Regions from separate parts of the Homo sapiens genome. Here region 2 is linked to region 1. Evidence: fine-mapped expression QTL. A gene starts in region 1. The other region holds a variant in brackets. All regions are shown on one strand. Distances are from middle to middle.

Region 1 (5,374 bases):
TTAGGCTTATTTTTTTAAACCACAATTGCATCAAGTCCTCTGTGAACACCAAGTCAGGGAAATCTGGGTGCGGTACTCCCCCAACAGGGCACTATAACTACCTGGACAAAAAAGAACCTTTCTGATGGCTCAGGCCCGCTGGTCTGTGCCCTAGTCTTTCCACACCTCTGAAAAAATGAGTAAATTTCCTAGATGCAGGGTCACTTTGCTGTCCACAGGAAATTATATCTTTTTTCTCCTTTTATAACCAAAGTCCTTAGTTCAGCTTGAGAAAACCTAGCTATCACAGGGTGGCCGTGAATGGACAATAACAGAGAAAGCTGGGACATGGCATTCAGGTGGATTCCTTTCCAGAAAAAGAAGTCATCCATTTACCGAGATGACTCTCTCTAGGAACCCATGTCTCAGGGCTGCTGTGCATGGTTGTTCTGGTTCACACTATCAACAGCAGGGACATTATTCACACGGCGTTGTGTGGTGCAGCTTTTCTACTACTCAGCTTTTAGGGTTCCGAGATTAAAGACACTCTTGCTTCAGAGGGATGAAGACAAATGCATCTGATGTAAGAATTAATGTCGGCAAGGCAAGGAAGGAGGGAAATGAAGGGAGATTTGGAAATGAAGGGAGAAGTGTCCTGAAGGAGAGGGTGCACTTTGGATGTAATCTTTGGCCTCATTTCCTCTCACCTTGCACTCGAAAACCCCCACCCCTGTCCTCATGAGCTGGCTACTTTCCAACAAAAACCAAAGAGCCACAGGGGCATGGGGCTACTTCAAAACCCTTGTGTCCTAGTTTAAGAAAGCAGAGCACTGCTATCAGGAACTCAGAGCAGCAAGGTCGACTCCTATCTCTAGCTATTCCTCCGCCAAGGAATCAGATTTCCTCTTGTAAGAAGCCTACTTAGTGACTCTTTCTCAGGGGTTGCCTGGTGTAGGGGCTGAAGAGAATCTGAGAACACAGGATCCAGCTCCCGGATTAAAAGGAGTAGAAGCAGAAAACTGGCCAAAAAGATGTGATTCAGAGATAGGCCTCATCCATCTTCTCTTGTAAAGCCAAAGACAACTGCTTATGTGGGATAACAAGGAGAACTCGTGGTCTGGTCACAGGCAAGGAAGTGAGATGTTTCAATACTAATACTTGCTTTGGGCAAAGCATGCAAAATAATTGTCTTGCTTCTGCTGCTTAAGGACGAACTTCCCCGACTTAAGACATCTTCCTGGGACTCCAGCTTGTGAGATAAGGGACTGTGGTTTATTCAGCACATCACATCCAGCAATGAGATGCACATAGGCTGGACATTAAACCTCCCTGGAAACCACTGGGATCAGTATTTCTCTACCCAATTATCCACTTTGAAGTAATATATCAATGATCATTCAATAAACTTAGTTAATATAACCACCGGCAATGGAAAACAATATTTTTTTCTTTTTCAATAGGAAAAAAAAGCCTCTGGTAGGGAAAATCTGATATAAACTTTAAAATTTTAGCAGATGACTTCACCCCACACGACCATCTTGAATATATCAAGGATATGCTATTTAAGTCTGGCTCAGTGTGACACTCTTTATAAATCAAATAATTCTTTAATTTATCTTTTGGATAAATGGATTTTTATATAATAAATTGTTTTCAATTCGTACATCATAATTTGCAAGGCAATAGCTCATTTCCAATATTTATACATAGCAATATCAAGAGAAAGGCCATTTTCTCATCCCATTTTTAACAATCCAACCACAATATGCTGTTTTGGTAAGTACTTAGGTTGGGAGAATATTCGAGAAAACTATTTCTCCAGGTGAGAAACATCTCAAGCAAACATTGGAAGGAATGCATTTTCCAGTAGCCAGTAACGGATGAGACGACCTGGGAGACCCAGGGACCTCAGGAAAAGCAAATGGCTCCACTAAAACTCCCTCCTCCAACCTTAATTGGTCAAATGCCAAAATAAATGAACTTTCCAAAGTTAAGAGCTTTGCAACTTTCACTAGGAGTAACTACAGGTGCACAAGCCAGGACCGACGAGTCTACGAACCCCATCGTGGCCGGCGGTAGTCGCTGGTCGAGCCTAGCGCCCAGGCCCAGGCCACCTCCATGCCGTGCGACCCGCCGGGAACGGGTTCAGGCCCGTCTGCCCAAGGCCAGAAGCACCCTGTCCCCGGCCCAACGCCGGATCGCGTCCCGCCCTTCTCACCCCATACCAAGGAAAGGAACTAGACGCTTGGGAGAAAGGATGAGCAGCACCCGGTGGGATTCGGCCCCAACCCGGGGCCGTCCCCAACTCCCAACTTCCCAGAGTTTCCTTCGGCCTCGTCCCCCTTCCCACGGCTCCGAGGCCGCCGCGGCCTCCCCTCGCTCTGAGTGCAGATAGCCCGGGAAGTGGAGAGCGTAGCTCGGAGCTAGGGAGCCGCCCCCAGGAGCCTTGGCGATGGGAGCGCAGGTGGCGGGCGTGGTCCCTCCAACCCTGCCCTAGCCGACCCGGAGTCGGCCTCCGTGCAGTAGCCACCGCCCGGGTCCCCGCCTGGTTACAGCATCAGGCCACAGTGCGCTGGTTCTTGATCACTCTCCTGGCTCGGTGGCCGCCCCCCGCCCTCTCCCAGTCCGCGTCGCTGTTCTGCCTCAGGCCCCGGTGCGGCCCCAAGTCCCAGCCCAGGGCCCTTAGGTCCCTCCAGGCGGCGGTGGCGGCACTCACCTGGGTCGCGGAGCCGGGGTCTGGCACGGTCCCGCAGGTGGTAAATGAAATCCTGGCAGCTGTCGTGCTCCAGGGCCCCACGGGCACAGAGCTCGGCCAGCAGCTGCAGCGCCTGGTGACAGAGCGCGTCCCTGGCCCCGGGCATCGCCCCCCCGCATCCTCGGACCGCGCCGGGCAGGCGGGCGCAGGAGACAGCCCTCCGCCTGCCAGCTCAGAGCCGCCGCCTCCGGGCCGTCCGCGCTCACCGCCAGGGACCTGCCGAGAAACGGTGCGAGCCTGAGCCCGAGCCCCAGACCCAGCCGGCCCGGCCTCCCACCGGTTGCATGCAGCTCTTCGCCAGCCGGTCGGTCAGGCTTTCTCTCTCTCCCGCCCGGTCCCTCCGTCCCTCCCCAGACACCGAGGAGAGGCGGTGCCGCACAGCCCAGAGCGCCTCTCTGCTTGCGCTCCGCCCGCTACTCGCGGCCGCCGGGGGGCGGGGCCAGGTCAGGAGTGCGCGCCGCAGGGTAGGATAGCGGCGGCCCCAGACCGGGGACCTGGGGTACTCCCCGGCTCCTGGCCGAGCGCGAGACTTGGCTTGGGACCTCGCGCCCAGAGCGGCCGCGCCCTGGCTTGGGGAGTGTGAGTGAGTGCGCGCTCCGGGCGCTTTCGCTACTCCACCCCTCATCCCTGATGCAAACCAAGCACCCGCTCCCACCGCCGAGTGTGTCCAAAGCACGTTCTTGGATGCCTAGTGCGAAGGTTACAATCTGGGCACACCCGCCAGATGCGCAGAACCGAGTCCCTGCTTCGAACTTGGAAAGAGCCGCCTGGGTTTGAACCATGGGCCTATGGGTGTCAGATGCCCAAATGCAGGGTTTGGGTCCAAGATTCGCCAACAAAGGAAGGATTTCCCAAGCACAGGCCCTTTTCGACCACTGTGGTGATTTGGATGGAGAAGGTGGAGGCTCTAGGTCAGAACTAAGATCAAATAAATAAACGATTCCTGGGAAAGACCCTGAGGCTTACCTGGGCTTCGTGGGTCCCTTAGTTTTCTAAGCAACCGTTTGGAAATCCAAACATTGCCAAAGTGTCTTCAGCACCCAAGGAGGAGTATCACAGAATCTTGGAGAGTTGGAAGGAACCTCAGGGCACCTCTCATCCACCCATCTTTTCAGCCTTTCAAGCAGTAAAGCCTAGAAATAACCACGAAGTACTCTGGGTGTGTGTGTGTGTGTGTGTGTGTGTGTGTGTGTCACTGTGCCACAAGCCTTTTAGGTACATAATCTCATTTAATTCTGTACATAGCCCAACAAGGTCTGTGTAATTGTTATCCTCATTTTACCAATGAGAAACTGGGGCCTGGGGACTCACAAAGGTGTTACTTGCTCAAATTCATACATGATGAAGGTAGCTTTGATTTTCTCTCTTTCTTTTTTCTTTTTTCCTTCTTTTTCTTTTGTCTTTTTTGTAATACTGGTGTTCAGGCCCCCACTCTAGAGCAATTAGAGTAGGATCTCTAGAACTGGTAACTATCATTCTTAGCCATGAGGTTGTGCCGTCTCTACGGACATATCACAACAATTCATATTTGCACAGAAAGATAATTTGGGATCCTATAGAATGCTCACGCAACAGGCAACCTTTGAAATCCTGCTGTGAATGGTACTAGGGTTTCAGGGAACTTACATGGGAATAGCAGAGAAAATGCAAAGTTGTAAAGGTAAAGATGCCTCCAGAGAGTTGCAAAGAGACAAACAGAGGGAGGAGAAACCAGCTTTAAGGGAGCCTGTAGGGGAGGTTGAGCAGATGCTGTTTCTTCAAAGGGGGGAACCCCTAGAGAAGAAGAAAAAGGCCATGAACAGAGAAGGTGACACCAGAGATAGTGTGATGCTGGGGGGGGGTGGCGGGGGGGACATATAGTAATGGTGAGAAGGTATGTGTGTTGAAGCACATGGAAATATTACCCTAATGCCATCATGTCAGAGAGGAACTGAAAGCAACAAGTTCAGTTAAAAAATGACTTTGATAAACCAGGCAAGAGATGATGAAGGCCTAAACCAGGCCAAAGGCATTAGCTGATTGCTAGAAACATCCAAATTTGAAAAACATTTCAAGTATTAAGTGACAAGATTGCAACCAATGGAATAAGAAAGAAGTGAAAGGCACAAACGTTTCAAAACGTTACCTGGGTCATATGTGCTCACACCCTAATAACACTTAGAAATGCAAGCCTAGAGTTTAGGAGAGAGTGAAGACTGGCAATCATCATTGGAAAGGTAGAAACTGAGTTGCCACATGGGATGGTTCCTTCAAGAAAGAAGAGTTGAAGAAATGAAAGAGGAGATTGGAAGGTAGCAATGAGAACAGGAGGAAAGATTGTACAGAGGGGAGTCATAGGGATCACGGGAGGAGGAGTGTTTGGTAGAGGAGCGAGCAACATCAACTGTAAACTTTCAAATATAGTTTAAAGAGAAAAAACTAAAAAGTGTCCTTTGGATAAAGTAGACAGTAAGACATTCAAGATTTAGACAGACTAGTTACTATGCAACCAACCTTGTGCAAGTTAACATTTTTGTGCCTAGGGTTTCTCATCTTATCTCAAAGATAACGTGTATCTTTGGGCTGTTACAAAGATTACATAAAGCAATATATTTAAGTGCTTGTAATAGTGCTGCCACATAGTATGGGCTCAACCAATAT
Region 2 (5,374 bases), 220 kb before region 1:
AAGGACCTGCCGTCTTTATATAAACATCAGAAGACTTGAGGACCATGCTGGGGTCTTTTCTTTTCAAAGCCAGAAAAGGCCCACTGAGGGGCAATGGGTCCCACTGAGGCTTCACACATAGAAGTAGTCCTTTAGGAGGGATAATTGGTACCAGCAGAGAAGGGTACTGCTATAAAGGTAAAACTTGTTTCTGGAAGGTTTACTTACCAGTTGTTTATAGAGTTCATAAGCTCATCTCTAGAGCCCTGAATACAAATGTCTTCAGGTATTTGAAGAAAGGATTTCATTAGTCTTTGAGCTTTGAATTAGGCAAATTTTAAAAACTGCCTTTCTTTGATAAATTTAAATCTAAATCCAAGATCAAGCCTCTGGATACAGCTGCTGTGCAAAAGGAATTTTATCTAAATTGTGTGAATGTCTTGAAGATGATGTTCACTTGGTAGAAAAAAAAACTATCAATATTCCTATGTCAAATGGTTTTGAAATAACTTTAATTCAATGAATAAATTATTGGAATAATAGCTATAATAAATCTAGTATTGAGCCAAAAAATTAATTTTTCTATTATCTTTAATGTTTAAAATCACAAATTCAATTTTCAAAAAATAAAGAAAATGGATAAAAGCAATACCATCCATGTGCTATAAACTATAATATGCAATATTATCATCAATCCATTTCATATTGATATATATACTTTTTAAATTGTCTGGCAATGGTCATCCAGCTTTCACAGAGTAATCTATCTTAAGATATAGTTTAGGGAGGCAAAATCAATGACTCAAGAGGACAGAATCTGTGGCCCAGGTCCTTTTGACTTATTCTTTCCTTTCTACCAGGAGGAGGTGTCATGAGAACCACTAGCTGTTGTGAAAGTTTGGCATTAGCCTATGGATGAGCTGGGAGACCCTAATGACAGAGGCTTAGTCAAAATTTCTGGACTTCAGGGCTGGCTCCTGATCCTCTGAGGCCTTGTGGGCCATCTTTAATCTTTGTTGTTAATCCTTCCCAGGCCCAGAGCTCCTGGACACAAGTGGGAAGACACCAGGGAGTGAGGTGACAGAGGTGATCACGCAGCTAGTTGAATTTTGCAGCCCATATGCCCAGGGATCCCAGCAGCAAGTGACAAGTCTTTTGAGTGGAAGAAGGAAGTGGGTTCCTGCCATAGTCCTTGGGAGAAGCTTGATCTGTTCTCTTGGGAGACTGAGCAAAGAGAGCTTTATATCAGGGACACTGGAAGCAGGTCTGTGGCACTGCTCAGAGCTTGCTCCTTCCTTCCTTCCTTCCTTCCTTCCTTCCTTCCTTCCTTCCTTCCTTCCTTCCTTCCTTCCCTTCCTTCCCTTCCTTCCCTTCCTTCCCTTCCTCCCTCCCTCTTTTTCTTTCTTTCTCTATCTCTTTCTCTCTCTCTTGCTTGCTTGCTCACTCGCTTTTTCTTCCTCCAAAAGAACAGAGACTATTTTTGCCTCACATTCATCCTGGGCTTAGGGATGAAGACCAGGGCTCTCTCCTGCAGCTCCTAGATTGCCAATGTTCTCTTTTCCCATTTGCCTTGGAAGTTGTCCTGTAAGTCTTCCTTGGGGTACTTTCTTGACTTGTGGGACTTTTTTTCCAATTATTTTCTTTTCCTCAGTTTTCTATTTCACTTCTTCCATGAAGGTCAGCCTATCTTGGAATGCACTTGATAGAAAGTAGAATAGTGGGGCTGGGCGTGGTGGCTCATGCCTGTAATCCCAACACTTGGGAAGGCCAAGGCGGGTGGATCACCTGAGGTCAGGAGTTCGAAGCCAGCCTGGCCAACATGGCAAAACCCTGTCTCTACTAAAAATACACAAAAATTAGCTGGGTGTGGTGGTGGGCGCCTGTAATCCCAGCTATTCAGGAGGCTGAGGCAGGAGAATTGCTTGAACCTGGGAGGCGGAGGTTGCAGTGAGCCGAGATTGTGCCACTGCACTCCAGCCTGAAGTGGAGCGAAAATCCATCTCAAAAAAAAAAAAAAAAAAAAAAGAAAGAAAGAAAGAACGAACAAAGAATAGTGTATGCTATCCCAGAAAGGCCCCATTCATAACATGCCTCTCCTCTTGAAAGCTGATCTCAGAGACATACCAGCATTTCCTGAACATTGCCAAAGGCTTGACTCTGTCTTAGATGATCCCAAAGCAACACCTCTATAGCTGCGGAAGTGTCCACGGTGATTGCCAAAGGATACTGAGGGGTGTCCTTCCTCTTTGGTCCCGAGAGAGGACTGAAGAAGGAAGAGTCAGGAATTCCCATTAGAGAGAAAACCTGAGTCTCAGAGGAGTTTCACTGGCCACTCAGCCTCTGGTTGTGGTCTGTGCCAGCAACCAACTCAGGACTCCTGTGTGAGAGAGATACTCTTTGTAAGGATGTGGAAGGGCACAGTAAGCAACAGGTGAGCCTTCTTCTCTGGGTTGAGTTTGAATGGCAATACCAGAGGCTGGGCACTCCTAAGCTAGACACCCTCAATAGTCCCAGGTGGCTATCAGTGAAGTGGGTGGCCAGGGGCAGCTAAGTGGCCTGCAGAATTATCAGGAGCCACATACAGGCAGTAGACATTGTTTTTGGCTATATTCACATCCATATTAGTGTCCTTTTCTCAGTTCATTAAATTACTTTGCATAAAATTGTTTTCATTGAAAGTTCATAAGCACTGTATCAGTCAGAATCGGTTGCTTTTCTTTAGCTTATACTGTTTAACTGTCCAGTTTAGCTCTTCCCTTCTTCTCTACCCCTTATTACTCATTGCATTCTCCATGTGTGTTGAGCATTCGATGTGCTTTTAAAATGACAGCTACCTAGGAAGCCCTTTAACTCATTAACCTCCCCACTCCCACTCCCATCCCCACTTTCTCCAAAGATGGCCCTGATGAGCCACACCTTCTCGTATTCCATTCTTGTGTAATTTCTTTCCCGTTGAATCTGGGCTGATTCAAGATTATGACTTGCTCTTGACCCTAGTATGTGGCAGAAATGACTCTAGGTTCCTTTAGAACTTACTTAACAGAACCTTGTAGCATCTAGCTGGACCACTTGCAATGCTAGCTCTGGAGGAAGCCAGTCACTTTATCAGAACACTATCTTGAGATGTCCCTGTGGTGAGGAAGCC[C/T]GAACTAACCATATGGAGAGACTATGTGGAGAGAGATGTCCAGCCATTCTGCAGCTGTTCCAGTTATCTCAATTCCAGAGCCAGATGTGAGTGAAGAAGCCATTATGGACATCCATCCGAGGCAGGCATTCAGATGATGCCAGCCCCAGATGCCATCTGAGAGCAACCATGAGACTGCAGGGGAGAGCATCAACTAAGCTCAGTCAACTCAGATAATCATGAGAGACAATATATTTCTATTTAAGCCACTATGTTTTGGTGCTTTGTCATGCAGCAGTAAGTCATTGGAATGTCCCCCCTCCCACCCCCCGCATTGCAGGACAGGGTGGCCATGAAAATAGCAAGCCATTTTCCATACCTATCCTTTGTCAGTCTCCCTGACTCAAGTGTAAAATAAATAATTATTTTCTTCTCATCATATGAAATGTAGTTCTACTGATGGCCATGTGAACTAAACAATACCTTTTTTTTTTCTTTTTTAGAGAGACAGGGCCTTGCTCTGTCACCCAGGCTGAAATGCAGTGTTGCAATCTTGGCTCGCTGTAGCCTCAAGCTCTTGGACTCAGGCGATTCTCCTATCTCAGCTTCCTAAGTAGCTGGGACTACAGGTACATTGCTAATTTTTTAAAAATTAGCCGGGGGGGCGGGGGGTCTCTTTTGAAATTAGATGGTGGTCTCTCCATGTTGCCAGACTGGTCTTGAACTTCTGGTATCAAGTGATCCTCCCGCCTTGGCCTCCCAAAGTGCTGAGATTACAGGTGTGAGTCACTGCACCCAGCCCTAAATCATACCATTTAGAGTCATGATTGTTGGAGAATTTTGAAAACATCTGCATTGTAGAAACCTTTCCCCTCCCCTCCCTGACCCTTGCTCCTGTCATGTACCAGTGTACTTCCTGGACATCAAAGTGCCTGCTGCATATGTCCAACTCACTGGCTGGGAGGGTGCTTCAGCAGCAACACACATCAAGGGCAGGTCTCCTTGAAGCCAACAGAAGTAAGAGGAAGGGGCTGAGAATCAGTGCCAGTTGGGTGGGGGGACACCTGGCCTCTCCCTCTCTCGGCACCAGCTTTTCCCAAGGTCTGATCAGAATGTTTCCTTTCTACTGCCATGTCCATTTTTTCATGGTATTTTAATTTCCTTCTTTATCCTGGAAAAGACATTGGAGAATCCCCTTCCCCCAAGTTAAATAAGACAAGGTTGGAGTTTTTCAAAAGGAGCATTTACTAGGAAACTAAAGGGCAACCAAACAGAATGCAAGAGAACAGAGGCAGAGTTGCAAATGGGCTGAGGGAGTTCAAATTTATAACCAGCCTCTGCTCACAGCTGTACTGGCTAGGCAAAGCTTTCCAGACACAAAGCCACCTGCCTGCCATGTGGATAGTACTCTTTGCCTGCTTGCCCCTACAAAGCCACCTTCTATTTCATACCAATAAGCCAGTTGCATCCTCATTAGTATCCCAAGGCTGCTGGCTCTCTGGGCAGGAAGCTTCTGAGGTGGGGAACAGTAGGCACAGCTGCCTCAGGATCTCCAACCCAGGCTTCCATTGCCAAGGACATGTCAGAATTTATTGGGATTGCTGCCTGATATCTATTGGAGCCAGTCTGCTTTCTCTGGGACCATTCTTCTGGGCTCATCTGCCTAGCTTTACAGACAATATTTCTGCTAACTATCCTGGTGGCGCTAGCCCTTCATGTTTTGCTTCTAAACACTGGTATGGTGGAGGATGTCTGAATGAGGAGGGATGAGCAGAGGGGAACCTTGAGCAGAGGAAGCCAAGTTTTCCTTATGTCATCAGACATAGGCAGAACCTTGGATTCTCTTTGAATCCCAGTGGTTGGAAGCCAATCAGAGAAGTGAAGCTTGAATGTAATGACACTGCTTCCTACAAACAAAGGCCTATAGCCTTCTTAGATCTGCCATCAAAGTAGAGCTTCTTGTATAGTACTAGGCAGCTGGGGCAATGAGAACTTTCTGAAGACGTATAACGATCCTTCCTCCGCCCAGTTAGTTCCATGCTGAAATGTTAATTCAAACAGAGATAATGAGCTTTCCAGGAAGGTAAACTACAATCCAACTCTGGATTCTGCTGTAAAGAGATTGTGTGAAAAGAAAAATACTATCTTGGAGTAGTGGTGCAAATGTGTGGATGGGGTGCCTTGCACCTATAATGGGACAGAGAGGACCATTAGGTAACAGCCCCCAGTCCTCCCAGGATATGCTGAGGCCTTTGGTTTCATTTACGTGGA

Which allele goes with the higher level. Positions count from the first base shown, and alleles are read on the strand shown. Sizes are in standard deviations (SD) of each study's normalised expression.
For the expression in prefrontal cortex of the gene that starts at base 3,123 in region 1, allele T in region 2 goes with a higher level than allele C (moderate effect, 0.42 SD a copy in GTEx).

The links. PIP is the estimated chance that this variant, and not a neighbour inherited with it, causes the effect. A credible set is the group of variants that fine-mapping cannot tell apart.
Region 2: its variant is the best candidate, but not a certain one, in a credible set for the expression of SYT9 in prefrontal cortex (GTEx, PIP 0.77).

The regions. Positions count from the first base shown.
Region 1 is chr11:7,249,653-7,255,026 of GRCh38, reverse strand. It overlaps SYT9 (synaptotagmin 9), which reads right to left and starts at 3,123. Exons shown (of 7, transcript NM_175733.4): 1 at 2,696-3,123. The coding sequence starts at 2,840. RefSeq lists a silencer at 3,091-3,230.
Region 2 is chr11:7,467,999-7,473,372 of GRCh38, reverse strand. It overlaps SYT9 (synaptotagmin 9), which reads right to left. Exons shown (of 7, transcript NM_175733.4): 7 at 4,330-5,374. Among named protein-coding and RNA genes, the nearest start is that of SYT9-AS1, 4.9 kb to the right of the region's middle. The variant C/T (reference allele first, on the strand shown) is at 3,125.